Homo sapiens: one gene and its partner. The protein of the gene in region 1 interacts with the protein of each later gene in a biochemical or structural test. Each region holds a gene or a part of one and is shown on either strand. Other genes may lie near its edges.

Region 1 (7,707 bases):
TGAGGGTAGATGAGCTGACGGCCCTAAGGCTTGCAGAGCAGCGTCTGGCATAAAGTGTTTAATGCCCCGAGTGCACGTCAGCAATCGCCAGCTTTGTTTTTTGTTTGGTTTTAGAGACAGGGCCTTGCTCTGTTGCCCAGGCTGGAGTGCAGCAGTGCAGTCACAGCTCACTGAAGCTTCGAACTCCTGGGCTCCAGGGATCCTCCCGCTTCAGCTTCCTGAGTAGCTGGGGCCACAGGCGCACACCACCACGCCTGGCTAACTGTATTTTATTTATTTTTAAATTTTAGATTCAGAGGTGCACGTGCGGTTTTTTTCATCTTTTTGTAGAGATGAGCTCTTGCCGTGTTGGCCAGGCTGGTCTCGAACTCCTGAGCTCAAGTGATCCTCCCACTTCAGCCTCCCAAAGTGCTGGGATTACAGGCGTGAGCCACCACGCCCAGCCAGTATTTTCTTTTCTAATTTGGAAACAGTTTTGAATGCAACTGACAAAGAACAATTTTGGGTATTTTTCCAAGTCTCAGGAAAAAAAAGGTGAGTCCCTACCAGGCACAGAGATTGTGTAAGAACGATCTTAGCATCCTCAGATGCAGAGCACGACCACCCTGGTGCACACATCCAACAGGAGGCGGGGGCACTCGGAGCTGCAGGCGGGAGCGGGAGGGCCGGGGAGGCAAACGAGGAAGAGCTACCGCGGCGAGTTCACGGCCCGTGGAGCAGCGCGGGCCGTGTGTCCCAAGGCACTATGGCTGCTGAGCGGACGTCTCCTTAGGGTTCTGCAGTGGATCTTGCCCCGCGCTGAAGCCCCACTGGGCCACACTGTCCATCCCAGGAAAAGTGGCTGATCCGCAGGCTCAAAGAGAACCACAGAAATGCTGGTCTCAGAGGGGCTGGGGCTAAGGCCCCCATGTCACACACACAGCACCCATGCGGCTAGACATCTAGATTCTGCAACAAAATCCAGACGTATTTAAGAAGCCAGGCTACAAAACAGGCCACGGAAAAGCACACTTTGAAGGTTTCACATGAAAGCGTGTGCCCGGGCCAAGTGGAAGAGCTGCGTCCCACAGTCTTCAATGCGATGCTCCTTAAAATGCTGCTTCTCCCCAGGCAAGAGTGACTATTGGGTACTTTTAACAACACGCTTCAGTGAACCACAGCTCAGCTGGTCGGCGCTGGTACCTGCTGAGCACCTGGGGGAGCAGGTGTGTAGCCTGAGTGGGGCCAGGCACGGCACGCCAGCTGTCGGGACGGCTCACCTGACTGTGCGACGATGACACTGAACTGCAGGAGCTCCGGCGAGTGTGCGGTCCAGTCAAGGTGCGACGCGGTCACCCGCTCCAGGAGGGGACCAATGTGCTTGCGGTAGAGGTCCTGGCAGCTGCTGACACCCTCCACCATGGCCAGTGAGTCCATCGTCTCCTGTGCCTGGAGGTTACAAGTCAGAGACTGAGACAATTCCAACACTCAGGGCTCAAGCCTGCCTGCCTGCTGGGACTCACTATCCCCCTCACGCGTAAGAACCACACAGGCCGGGCCTGCCAGGATAATCGGGAGGGAGGCTGCCACAGGGAGCCCCGCCCAGGGTGCAGGAGAGCGAGAGCCGCGGGTGCAGGGCGAGACCCTGATCCCGTTCACACCAACGCCGTCTCTGCAGCGAATCATGAAGCAGGCACTGTGCACACTGGGATGCACACAGCACAGGTGGTCCTGGGGCTTACACGGACGTGGTGTCCGCCTGGGCAGGCAGGGCTCCTCTGAGGTGGTGAGGAGCAGAGAGGGGCGGGCAAGTGGCTTAAAGAGTTAAGCCCAGCAGACCAGACCTCCAGGTAAAAGTAACTGGGCAGACAGAGATGATAACCTTGGCCACCTTTTACTTTTAGCTGGCTGCTCTCCTTGGGGGCTTAGGAACAGAGGAAGGGCTGAGGCTCCCCGGTGGCCATTGCCCCAAGCCTGGAGTCTGAATCTGGGGCTACCTGGCTTCGTCCCCCATGACCAGCAGGCAAAGACTTTGCTTTTGCTGGTACCTCAGGCCCTAACAGTGACAGCATCTGCTGAGACACACGCCCCTTGGGAAGCTTGTTTTTAGAGGCCCCAAGAAGGAAGGGGAGGGCAGCAGCCTCCTCCACACCAGGTTCCCCATAGTACATTCAGGCCGTAAATCTCCCAGAGAGAGAATCTGCCGAGAGGGGCTGTCCACAGAGACAGAATGGGAGGAGGAACTAAGTCTCAGCTTCCAGAGAGGCAGACAGATACTGGGGCCTCCAGGGGCCCTAGAAGCCCATTAGAAGGTTGGGGTTAAAAGATTTTTGGGCATAATGGCCAGGTGCGGTGGCTCATGCCTATGATCCCAGCCCTTTGGGAGGCTGAGGCAGGTGGATCACCTGCAGTCAGGAGCTTGAGACCAACCTGGCCAACGTGGCAAAACCTTGTCTCTACTAAAAATATAAAAATTAGCCGGGTATGGTGGTGGGCGCCTGTAATCCCGGCTACTCAGGAGGCTGAGGCAGGAGAATCACTTGAACCTGGGAGGCAGAAGTTGCAGTGAGCCGAGATCGCGCCACTGCACTCCAGCCTGGGTGACAGAGCGAGACTCCACTGAAGAAAAAAGATGATTTTTGGGCATAAACAGGGAGCCCATGGGCGAGAAGTACTTCTGAACGCTGTGCTGCAATGAGAGCGGGAAATCACGGTATCTTCTCTCGACTCAGTCACACATGCACATGCACTTTTTTTTTTTTTTGGACGGAGTCTCGCTCTGTTGCTCAGCCCAGGCTGGAGTGCAGTGGCACGATCTTGGCTCACTGCAACCTCTGCTTCCCTGGTTCAAGCAATTTTCCTGCCTCAGCCTCCTGAGTAGCTGGGACTACAGGCACATGCCAACACGCCTGGCTAATTTTTTGTATTTTTAGTAGAGACGGGGTTTCACCATGTTGGTCAGGCTGGTCTCAAACTCCTGACCTCAGGTGATCCGCCCACCTCGGCCTCCCAAAGTGCTGGGATTACAGGCGTGAGATGCCACGCCCAGCGACATGTGCACTATTAAACCCTACTCAAGTGCGCAGGTTTAAAGGTTACGTCTTATTTCTTGTTTGCTTCTTTGCTGAAGACCCTAACATTAAACAGCTGTCTCCACTCCCTGATGCCAGAATACACTGGCAGCTGGAGAGCTGCCCCGAAGGCCGTTGCCCGGGGACTCACCCGCAAGGTTCTCAATCCCTGGTCTTTGCTGGTCAAGCACAGAGGGGATGCATAGGAGACAGTTCACCTCACTTAGAGATGCCTTCCAGCTGTGAGCTCCGCTAGGTCAAGCAGCAGCCACCACTGTCAGCCTTACCTTGTCCCTCAGGCCGGTAGCACCTGCGAGGGCCACTATTGTCAGCAGCACGTCCAAGAGCTGCAGGCTGGCCACGCCACAGTCCTCATGACACACAGACACCAGAGCCTGCACACACAGCAGCAGGCGCTCCAGGTAGAGGTCCTGGAAGAGACCGGCAGCACCGTCAGAGCTTGGTACAATTTGGTCGTGTCCCCACCCGAATCCCATCTTGAACTGTAGCTCCCATAATCCCCACGTATCCTGGGAGGGACCCTGTGGGAGGGAACTGAATCATGGGGGTGGGTCTTTCCCGTGCTGTTCTCTTGATATTAAGTCTCACGAGATCTGATGTTAGTATAAAGGGCAGTTCCCCTGCACACTCTCTCGCCTGCCGCCACGTAAGACGTGACTTTGCTCCTCCTTTGCCTTCCACCATGATGGTGAGGCCTGCACAGCCATGTGGAACTTTGAGTCCATTAAGCCTCTTTTTCTTTATAAATTACCCAGTCTGTGGTAGATCTTTATTAGCGACATGAGAATGGACTAATACAGGGCTCCCGCTCCGGCCCCAGTGTCAGGGCCGACAGAGCCCGCCCGGGGCTCCTAGTCTACGGCTCACGAGGGGCAGCAGCCATGGGAGAGCCCTTGCAGGGAGAGCCCCCAGGCGCTGGAGGTAGGGTGCCGGCATGTCAACCATAAAAGGGCGTGCTTGTTGATGGGAAAACTGAACACAGACTGGGAGCTAAGGAATCTGTGCTTATTTTGTGAAATGTGAACAGGCACTTGAGCTATGTGGTGGAGAAGCTGCGTTAGTGATGCACACGGCACCTGTGAGGGAAATGACGGCGCACTGCATTATCTGCTTTACAACATGCCCAAGTTCTCCCCGCCCTCCAAAGTTAAAAAGAAAAGTGGCCCCAGGCAGGCAGAACACGCATGCCAAGGGCTGGTCAGCGCTGAAGCTGGCAGTCGCTCTGCTGCCTGCCCCTCTTCTGTGCATTTTTGAGCTTTTCTATAACACCAAGTTTTAAGACAAATAAAATTCTATGGCTTAACATGTTTACTGATTGACGGGGAGGTGGAGTCTCAGCTCTGCACCTACGGCTGCGCTGGATGAATGGCTTCCCCTCCCGGCTCCAGCCTCATCCACTGTGAATCAGCCAGGCTCTGAAGCCCGCAACACAGCAGGCGTGTGCTGGACCCAAGAATTCCTAAGGCTTTGCGTGTGCTTACTTCTTTCTAAATAAATTTTAACTTATTTTTTAGAGACAGGGTCTTGCTCTGTCGCCCAGGCTGGAGTGCAGTGGTGCAATCGTGGCTAACTGCAGTCTCAAACTCCTAGCCTTAAGTGATCCTCCTGCCGTGGCCTCTCAAAGTGCTGGGATCATAGATAAGAACCACCACGCCTGGCCTGTATTTACTTCTTATAACGTCCCTCTAATGTCTATTTTATGTATGTTTCATAAAGTACAGAGTGAGTCAGGACCGTGGCCATGTAATTTAAACACGTGATTTATCAACAGTGTACATATATTGGAGGCCTATGCTTAAAAACTGTTTTTACTAATGGGGGTGCAAGTTCAAAGAAGTTTGGTAATTATTTGGCTAGACAATGGGTTGGTTCTAAATTTCCTAATCAGCTCTAAAACTCTAAGCCTCATTCCCCACTGACGTAAATCATGGAAGACTAAACAAAACACTCCCACTGTACTACAGCAGCGTTCTGTCCTTGCACCCCGGCCCCGCCCTGACCCACAGAAGACACAGAGCTGCATGGCTCCATCTCCCTCGGAGCTGGAGGAGCCGCGCGGCCCCGTCTCCCTCAGAGCTGGAGGAGCCGCGCGGCCCCGTCTCCCTCGGAGCTGGAGGAGCCGTGTGGCCCTGTCGTGGCCCCAACTCCCACAGAAGCCACAGATTTGTTTTTATTCCATTCCTGATTTTTCCCACAGCCCAATTTCTCTAAGGCCTGTACTAACTGGCTGACTTCTGAGGACAATATCTGGCTAGTTTCTAGAATGACCTGTCATGTACATTTCAGGAGCGATCATCTTTTCGGTTAAAATCAAAAGGCAGGTGCGTTTAGAAGACACAGCCCCTCCTGGCTGACCACACCTCCAAGCACAGGAACAAACAGGGAATCAGGCATCCTTTGCAGCAAGCACCACCCTCCTGCCACGAACGCAGCACCGTCTCTGAGGAAGTGACAAGACTTCACATTTATAGATTTCTCTATATTTGACCAGACAATTTTCAGTGTCTGCCTACATACAACGCACACACACAGAACGAAAAAGAAAAAAGATACAGCAGGAAATAATTCTCAGTATTTTTTGAAATACTATTTCAAACATTGTTTTCTGAAACAATGTTATCTAAGACTGCAAAGGTTTTTAATTCAGAAAAGCACAAGAGACTCCTATTTCAACAATGGCAATGGCATCCCACAACTGCTGGCTTCCCTGTGTGAGAAGCAAATCGGTGAGTTACCCATTTCCTCACTCTAGACACCTGTCCTAAACTCCTTCCCAGGAGACTCCAGTTCCCGTCTGTCGAGCTCTAGGGGACCTACTGGGCCCGAGACACCTGGAAGTACCTACTGCTAAAGCCAGATTTCCTGTGAACCCCAGGGCAGGGAGTGAAGCCAGGCTCAGTTTAGAATACATTTACACGGACTTCTCTGTTTAAACACGAGCTTTTAAAACAATTTCGGTTTGTTCTTGAAAGACATTTTCAACCTGTTCTCATAGCTACTGGAGAATAGCTGTGGGAAACATAATCGACTTCCCAAATGACATGACACAAAGCCCGGCCGGCCGCGGGAAGAGCACAGGGGCGTGGGAAGAGCACAGAACCACGGGCCTGATTCTGACTGAGACCTGAGTACCTTCACCCTTTCTTGCCAAAAATTTAAGTCTGTTAAGGAGTAAAATGGGGCCAGGTGCGGTGGCTCACACCTGTAATCCCAGCACTTTGGGAGGCCGAGGTGGGCTGATCACTTGAAGTCAGGAGTTCAAGACCAGCCTGGCCAACATGGAGAAACCCCGTCTCTACTAAAAACACAAAAATTAGCCGGGTGTGGTGGTGCATGCCTGTAATCCCAGCTACTTGGGAGGCTGAGGCAGGAGAATCGCTTGAACCTGGGAGGCGGAGGCTGCAGTGAGCCAAGATTGCGCCACTGCATTCTAGCCTGGGTGACAGAGCAAGACTCTGTCCCAAAAAGTAAATAAATAAAAATAAATAAAAAAAAATTACCCAGGTGTGGTGGTGCACACCTGTAGTCCCAGTGACTCAGGAGGCTGAGGTGGGAGGATCAACCTAAAACAAAAAAATAAAAACAAGAAAGGAGTGAAATGTACGTCTTGGGTTTTCACTGTGACTGGCTCCTTGGCCAAAGGGCCGACACACGTTCGCAGCCTGGAAGGTTGAGGCTGGCTTCCCAGGGGTCCCGTGTGACTGGACTTTGTCAGAAAGACGTCTCTGTTTGAAAGATTGTGATTAAATTTTTCCTCGATAAAACTGGAAGATGGGGAGCCAAATGCACAACTGTGGGATGACACAATTCCGTTTTCCTGTAACCAACATGGAGATGTGAAAACTACACTTTCTTTGCTATAAAGTTTGTGAGATAAGGATTTAGGCACCTGTGCACATTTTCAAGTTATGCCCTTCTAGGAAAAAATGCTTCTGGCTTGCAAATCTGTATACAGAAATCAAAGGCATCCTCATAACCCCTCGTGGGTGAAGGAAAGTGGAGAACTGACACACATTCGATGATGTGTTAAAAACGGGTTTTGGGAAAAGCTGAAGCATGGCTGAAATGCCATGAGCACGCGGCCCGGGCCCCTCCCCCGCTCCCTTCCTTACCCCAGCTCCGTTTCCTTCCCTCTATGTATTCCAGGAACTGCTTACAGGTTTCTTAAAACAGTTTACAAAAATGACTGTCAACAGCCCCACCTCTCGTTCTGAGGACGGAGAGGGAGCCTGACACAGGACAGGCCGGGCTGAGAGCACAGTGGCAAGTCCCCGTGCCCCAGGCCAGCTTTGGGGCCATAGAAGCCGCCGGAAACGATCGAGCCGGAGCAAGTGCCTCCAGGGGTGAGCTGAGGCCCGCCCTGCATGGCACGGCCGCCTGGTGGGGGCAGCCCTGTGTCCCAGAAATATCTGGGGTGCTGAGTCCAACACACACACTGACAGGGACCACTCACCTTCAAATGAAAGCAAAGCCATCACCTCTTCTTCCATGGAATACAACTATGGATTATTCCAAACAATTGAGCCCAACTACCCAGGCTGTTCCAGCTTCTGAGCTCAAGGATTTGCTGCTCAATTTAAAATTAAACAAATGTCTCTGGCAAATCCTCAGCTGGGCTGTGAGAAGCACAGATCGG
Region 2 (7,707 bases), on another chromosome or scaffold:
ACGGTGGCCAGGTAGCCACAGTAACCCCCCATGGTCTCCACGATGAACACACGGCGCTTGGTCCCCGAGGCAGACTGTTTGATGCGGTCACAGCTCTGGGGGACAAGGGGGGGTCGGGGGTCCTCCACGTGCCCACCCTTCCCTGTAGGCCGTCGGCATGGCTACCCTGCAGGGAGCCCTGTGTCTCCAAAGCCAGCCTGGGGCTGACGCACCCAGACAGCCAGCAGCACCAGGCTTGGGCCCACCTCCCACCTGGGCCCCACAGGACCAGGGGTTCTCAACCAGGCGACCCCACCCCCCAGGGCACAGTGGACAGCAGCCTGCACACACACTGGCTGTGAGTGGGCAGGGGTGTCCCTGGCACCCTTGGACAGAGGCCAGGCGCTGCTCTTAGACTACCCAGCACTGGGGCGCAGGGACATTCCCGCCTCAGTCTCCCCATCTGAGCTCATCACAGTAGCGAGGAACAACGCAGGGCCCCCCTGGACCTGGAAGTGGCTATGGCAGGGAGCTGAGCCCCTTCACCCGGGCCTGTGCCCCACAAACCCCAACCCTGGCAGCCCTCCCAGGTGCTCACCACACACTATCCCCTCCAGCAGCCTCCGTAGGCTCAGCCCCACCCCACAAGGGCCTGGGCATGGCAGGCCGGTGTCCAGGAGCCCCGTACCTCCATGGCGGCATTTACAGCAGTGTCGGAGCCCAGGCTGAAGTCGGTGCCAGGGACGTTGTTGCTGATGGTGGCTGGGATGACACACATGACGATGCAGAGCTCCTCGTAGCGCCCGCGAGCCTCCACCAGCTGCAGCACCCCTTCATAGGCCTGCAGCAGTAGGGACGGGGCAGGTCAAGGGCAGCACCGAGGCCAGGGTGGGCCGGGGACAGGCTCTGCCGGCGGCCGCCCAGCCCTGCTCCCTGCTGACCTGTCATGTGCCCCGTGCTGGACGCCAGGACCCACCTGCTCAATCCCCTGGGGCTGGGCCAGGCAGTCAGCCTGGTGTCATCTCAGGATGCCTACCAGGGAAACTGGACTCTAAGGAGGGTCAGGAGTCTCCTCCAACCCACTCTGACCCCAGATCCACTCCATGGAGGGCAAGGGGGAAGGGCTGTCATTTATTCATTATTTAGTGACAGCTTGCCCAGTGCCAGGACACCACGTTCAGCGATGCCGTCCAGCACCTACACCTCTGCCTCCTCCGCCTCCCTTCTTTCTCGTCCTCCAGCTTCCGAGTCCCCTTCCTCCCCTGCCCCTCCCCAGCACTGGGGTTAATCGGAACCTTGTGAAGCTTTCCGGAGAAAGTAAAGAACCCTCCCGAGCCCACACACAGCACTTAAAACCCCAACCCTCTCGGCCCCTGCATCAGCCCAGCTGGCACACGGGTGCCCTCCCGAGCCCACACACAGCACTTAAAACCCCGACCCTCTCGGCCCCTGCATCGGCCCAGCCAGCACACGGGTTTTCAGGATGGGCCCCCTCGGCGGGAGGACACCTTGGGTCTCCTGTGCCCTGGGGCTTTTTCGTCCGTGGGCAGCTCTCACCTCAAACCCACCGACCACCAGCAGGGCGTGAATACCATAGATGCGGATGTTCTCCACAATGGACTCCAGCTGGCCCTTGGGCAGGGTCCTGCAGTCAAAGACACATCCGCATGAACACGCAGCACCCGGGGACGCGTGTCCAGATTGCATCTGATCACAGAAAGGCATTGCCTTGGCCGTTCCCCGAGCCAGTCAGCAGTCGCTGCAATGCCCGGGATGTGGCGCTGTGGCTCCACACGGAGAGGGACACACAGGCCCAGCGTGAGCCGCCTGGGCACCACTCAGCATCACCAGGCACCGGCCAGGCAACCGAGTGAACCCCCCACCCCGCTGGGCTCCCCGTGGGAACCCCTTCCTGCCCGAGGCTTTCTCGCCCAACACTCAGCGGCAGGAGCGGATGCTTCCTCTGGCCCTTGCAGCCACTCAGTGGCTCAGGACTCAGCAACTTCCCCTGTAGTCACACAGGGGGACTGTGCCCACCCCATGCCCACAGAAGGGTCTCAGGCCCTGGGACAAAAGCCATCAGACAGGCCCATAGCCTCAGCCAGAGTGCTGACAGTGCAGGCTGCCTGGCCTGGCCAGGCAGGGACAGACGCTCGCCAGCTTCCTTGCCACGGAGAGCCCACCATGGGCATGGGGCCGCCAGAGCAGCCTGCCCTACACAGCGGAGCTCAGGCCAGGAAGCCCCAGGCAGGAGGCGTGAAGCCTGCTCTGGGCAGACCACCAGCAGGAAGAGGGGCCGAGCCCAGGGCCCCGGGCTGGGTTCCCCTTGCCGCCCCCACCTGCAGGGCCTGGATACTGCGCCCTGGCCCTCCTGCCCCCAGGTACCCGCAGCAGGCAGCTCACCTCTTGGTCCCCAGCATGGAGCCACCACGCCCCAACCAGCCGGCCACGTCGTGCCAGCCTACTTCTTGCACCTGCCAGGAGGAGATGCAGCTTCAGGGGCCAGCCTGAGCCTCTGGCCAATTCCCCCCAGGGGTGGGCCTGTGCCCGGGGGCCAGCCAGTGTTGGGCATCACGCTGCAGGCAGAGCTGAGTACCCAGGCCCGGGTGGGCACCGACACGCGGACCCAGGTCTCAGCCTCCACCTCCAGCAGCCGGCCTTCCACAGGAAATGCCCCAAGTGTGCACACAGAAGGCCCAAGTCCTCACTTGTTTGCCCCGGCCGGACCCACCTGACCCTTGGCTAGGCCTTCGAAGCCATCGTGCACCACGTATACTGTGTGTCCATGGGAGATGCCGGTCCGCACCGCCGAGCGCACGGCCGCATTCATGCCAGCCGCCGGGGCCCCCACATTCAGGATGGCCAGGGAGAAGTTAGACTTCAGAGAGAAGGGGAGATGAGCGTGAGGCACAGCCGGGGAGGGGACCCCCAACCTGCACAGGAGGTCAGCAGGCCGGCAGGTTCTGGAAAAAGGGGCCAGGCCCTGCCAGCAGCCTGGACGCTGCCCAGCACACCGCCCAACTGCCCTGGGAATACGGTATCTGTTCTAATTCCAGAAGATTCTGGTGAAGACCAAAAGAGACACGGTGCAAGCCTGGCCCCCTGGCACGCAGGCAACAGAGGAGGCAGAAGGGGCGAGCACTGTTGTGAAGCCAGGCTTGCGGGCGGGAACACAGGTCAGTGCCCACACAAGGGGCTGGCAGCGGGCGGGAGGGTGGGGGGTGCACAGCCACGAGTAAGGAAGGGGCCCTGGCTATCCTGTTTTCTAGTAGCCACGTTAAGGGAAGGGAAAAGACATGGAGACAGTCCCATCAGGACTACAGTTAATTTAACCTGATGGACCCAAAACCCCACCACATCCATGTGAATCCAGTGACGGCCGCCACCACCTCCCCTCCACCCACCGTGCTGAGGCTCTGAACCTGGCGTGCACCTGTCACGTGCAGCACATCCCACTTGGCAGCAGCCACACCCAAGGGCTCCATAGCCACATGGCCCCACTGGGTCCTGGTACGAGCCAGCCCTGCTGCCCACAAAGCCAGTCACGCCCCTGCCAGGTTCTGGGTTCGTGGAGACCAGGTTGCCCCACCACGGAGGGTAGAGCCCGCTGACTAGCTCTGGGGATAAGCAGGAGGCTGGAGCAGCAGGGACACCCAAAGATGTCCATGGAAGGGAGGACCAGACTCAGGCTGGGCCACGCTGTCTGCCCCGGCCTGCAGCTCCGGCTGTGGCTCAAGGGGCTTGGGAGCCAGGACCTCACTGGCCGTGACTCTCTCTACAGGACCCTCGTCCCCCAGGACTTTAGAAACAAGCCATTTCATCCTTATTTTGGAGAGATCCCATTTCCTGAGGTTTTCAGCTGTTTGGGAACATTTTATTTTCAGAGTTTCACTCTTGCCGCCCGGGCTGGAGTGCAATGGCACGATCTCGGCTCACTGCACCCTCCACCTCCCAAGTTCAAGCTATTCTCCTGCCTCAGCCTCCTGAGTAGCTGTGATTACAGGCATGTGCCACCACCACGCCCAGCTAATTTTTGTATTTTTAGTAGAGACGGAGTTTCACCATGTTGGCCAGGCTGGTCTCGAACTCCTGACCTCAGGTGAACTGGCCACCTCAGCCTTCCAAAGTGCTGGGATTACAGGTGTGAGCCTGGCCCCGGGGGACATTTTCTACACAATGGCTTCTCCTCTCCTGAGTTAAGCCTGTGGCCTGACTTCATTTCCATCCACCACTGAGAAGCAACAGCCAGCCCTGCAGCCAGGGTCCCAGCACCCGGGACCTGCCAGCCACAGTGGTGCCTGAGCCCAGGCAGAGGTCAGGCCCACCCTCCCAGCTCACAGCTCGGACCCCAGCAGGAGGGAAGGTGGGGGCAGGCAGGCCCAGCCACGGGGCCAGCGTGAAGAGGCTGCAGAATAACTGAGCCCGTTCCTCCCTCTGTGGGCGCCGCTCCCTGCCTCACCTTCTCCTTGGGGGGCTTCTGGTGGGCGAGGAGCTTGTAAATGTTCCAGTTGTTCTCGAAGCTCCTGGAAGGGATTCGGGTCACACCATGCACAGCCCTGCAGCGCCACGGCGTACAGCCACAGCGCAGCCGTGACAGAGCCCAGGAGGCTGGTCACAGGCACACGGCCCGATGGAAGCTCAGCCATGAGGCAGCAGACACCGCGCATGCCAGGCAGGGCACCTTCCACAGAAGGTGCGAGACCCCCAACACAACACGAGGCCACGCCAGCCCGTGCAGCAAAGCACGTGGCCGGCATCCAGCTCAAGGGAGGGTTGGCCACCTTGGTAGCGGGTGGAGGCACGCATGGGAACCCAGACGTCCAATCCAGCCTGACCCGGCCGCCAGGACGCCTGCAGGGGGGTGGTACCCACACCCAACATCTGCCAGCCTTCCCAGCCCCCGCGGGGCCACCCCATGTCCTGGGCTTGTATCCACAGCTTCTCATCCCCTCGCCATGCCCAGATCCCTGTGCACTGGGCCCTGCCCGTGCCACCGCCCAGGGTCTCCTGTGGTACCACACCTCCCAGCCCGCCTCCTGTACCACCCGCAGGCCCCTTCCTCCCTCGATCTTCAGACGCGGTGCCTAGAAGGATGACCCAGGCCAGGCGTGCATAGCGCCACTGCAGCACATGCTGCCTGGCACCGGGACCCAGCCATGTAAGAGTGCAGGGGTCTGCTGAGGGGGCTTACCCACCACGGAGCTGGGTGGCCTCGTCAAACCTCTTGTCATCCATGGCTTTCTGCACTTCCTTGGTCTTAAGGAAGAGAAACAGAACACAGACTATGGAGAGCCTGGCCCGCACACCCATGGCTACTGCCCTGTCTGGTGGGCCTGACGAGGGCAGATCTGGCCGGCATCTCCTGACCCTGGCCCAGGCCTGGCAGCCTCTCCCTAGGAACAGCGGTCACCACCAAGGCCAGCTCTTCTGGGGCTGGCTGAGACCAGGAGGCCCTACCCTGCCCCCAGCTGCCCTCCTCACCTCTCAGCAGCTCCAGCTCCAGGCAGGGCACTCTGCCCCAGTTGCAGGCCTCCAAACCCACCGAGCCAGGGCTGGACCAGCCCCCACACCCGGCCCCCTCGCCTCTGCCTTCCCCGTACCTCCTCTCCTGGGGTCCCTGCTCCAGCCACCCCAGTGTTCCCCATCACCTGCCTGAGCTCCTCCCAGGGCTCTGCTCTGATCACTGGCCCCTCCTCCTCCGTCCCATCGTAACCCCAACTCCCACCACTGCCTACAGAAGCTCAGTGGCCGTGGACCCCTGTGACTTCCCATGCTCACCAGGCTCCCTGCAGCTCCGACACACCTCCTGGGGAACGTCCCAGGTCCCACGTCCCACCCAGGGATGTGCTCACATCCCTCCCCTCCCTGGAGACCTGGGATGCCCTGGGCCAGCCACGAGGCCCTGCCCTCCGGTGCTCACAGTGCTGGGGCCCCCAGAGAGCAGTGGGGCCTGTGAGTGGGGACTGGGGAGAGGGGCCAGGCGGTTCTGATGGGGGGGGCCCAGGGCTTACCATCTGCACGCACTCCATGAGGGGCAGCCGCACTGACTGGTTCCCCGAGAGGGTGACCACGCAGGCCGGCGTGTCAGGCGTGGCTTCCAGCAGCGCCATCACCGCCTCCATGCCCATCTTGCTGCTCTGTGGGGAAGGGTTCAGGCTGGCACACCCACTTGGTCCCTCTACCCCAAGCCACATGCCCATCCTCTGTAGATGTGCAAACCCCAGCTTCCAGAGCCCCCCACGCTGACGGAAGCTTCCAGAACAGGTGGCATCAGAGATGGAAACGTGTCTGACCAGCATTCACGACGGCACACCAGACACCATTTCACAGAGTCCTCGCTGCCCTGCTGGAAGGCCCAGCCTGCACTGCTGGCTGCAGGGTGCCATGCAATGCGACCCACCCACCGTCGCTCGCTGCCATCGCTAGGCGCGCAAGGCAAGGGCGGGAGCCAGGTCCCCAGGGCCCCATCCGCTGCGATGGATCCTCCCGTGGAGGCCCTCATGTCGTGACTTCCCTGGTGTGTGTCCGCACCGGCCAAAGGGCTGGGCAGAGGACACATCCAGGAGCTGCCCCCCAGGGACACACTGCAAAGGCAGGCCCCAGCCCCACCCCGGGAACCGGCCACAGTGGACAAGAAAGCCAGGCCTGCGGTTGCCGTGGCCGTCCCATGACCACCAGTGGCCAGCCCTGTAGAAGCCCAGCAGCTGGACCCCCGGGGCCACAGACAGCCCTCCGTGTTCCACACAGGTTTTTTCATCTTGCAAGTGAGGCACAGGCGGCACCTTATTCTGGGCAGTCTCTCCAGGACGCTGTTTAGGGAGCAGCCTCGGAGACACCCCCCATGCAGGATGAGGCTCCTTGGAAAAGTGCAGGTTACCACTGCACGTGCTAGGGTCCCCTGGCCCCTTCGCAGCACCCAGTGGGAATACGGGCTCAGGGAGCACAAGAATGCTGACGCTCTGGGTGACAGCCGCGGCTAGGGGCGATCAACTGTCCTTTGTTTCACACCCGGCATCAGGCATCCAAGACACTGGCTGGAAAACCCAGCAGCCTGCAGGCTGGGAGTGCATGGCTGGCCCGGTCACAGCAGCGGCATTTCCATCACCCCAGGCTCAGCAGCGGCTGGCTTGCCCTGATGTCCCCGGCCCCTCAAGAGGCTCTTCAGAGTGAGCCTGAGGCCTCACAGAGGGGACAGCAGCTGCCTGGCTAGGTCGGCGGGGCCCCTCTCTGAGGAAGCCTCCCCTCTATAGAGTGGCCCTCGTCCAGCTGTGTGGGTTCCCTGGGAATGCTCGGCTCAGCACACGAGTCACAGGGCCAGGTGCAGTCACAGGGCTGGGCGCAGTCACCTGGTCTCCCTCAGCACAAGTCCCACCTGTCTGACAGTCTCTGGCCCTGCCTGAGAGGGTGACCACCCTCATACACAGGCATTTTGCCTACCATGGTGCCTTCCTGGCCCCAGACCCACTCCATTTGGCTCCAACTTCATTCCCATTTTGCAGAGGACAAAGTGAGACCCAGCGGTGATCAGGACCAAGGACGGCGAGGCCAGGCCAGACCCCGAATGCTCCCTCCCAGCACCAGCCTCCCAGACTGTGACGCCACAGGCGCCATGGGCACCACCCTCTGCCCACCCAGCCCCTCTCCCAGGGCCTGCCCCTGGCCCTGACTGCTGCCACGTTGGGCTGGCAGAGGGTGGGGGTCAGAACAGCCAGGAGGCACAGGCTGGTG

The links. The genes of interacting proteins can lie anywhere in the genome.
Region 2: the proteins of DNAAF5 (region 1) and PFKL form a complex in vitro, tested with the Homo sapiens proteins (one study listed by BioGRID).

What each region holds. Positions count from the first base shown.
Region 1 is NC_000007.14:757,527-765,233, reverse strand, and holds part of DNAAF5 (dynein axonemal assembly factor 5), read right to left. Parts: intron 3,482-7,707; coding exon 3,338-3,481; intron 1,429-3,337; coding exon 1,260-1,428; intron 1-1,259. UniProt on the Homo sapiens protein: Cytoplasmic protein involved in the delivery of the dynein machinery to the motile cilium.
Region 2 is NC_000021.9:44,316,879-44,324,585, reverse strand, and holds part of PFKL (ATP-dependent 6-phosphofructokinase, liver type), read right to left. Parts: intron 6,117-7,707; coding exon 5,991-6,116; intron 5,236-5,990; coding exon 5,171-5,235; intron 4,503-5,170; coding exon 4,439-4,502; intron 2,858-4,438; coding exon 2,711-2,857; intron 2,454-2,710; coding exon 2,383-2,453; intron 1,625-2,382; coding exon 1,537-1,624; intron 821-1,536; coding exon 668-820; intron 96-667; coding exon 1-95. UniProt on the Homo sapiens protein: Catalyzes the phosphorylation of D-fructose 6-phosphate to fructose 1,6-bisphosphate by ATP, the first committing step of glycolysis.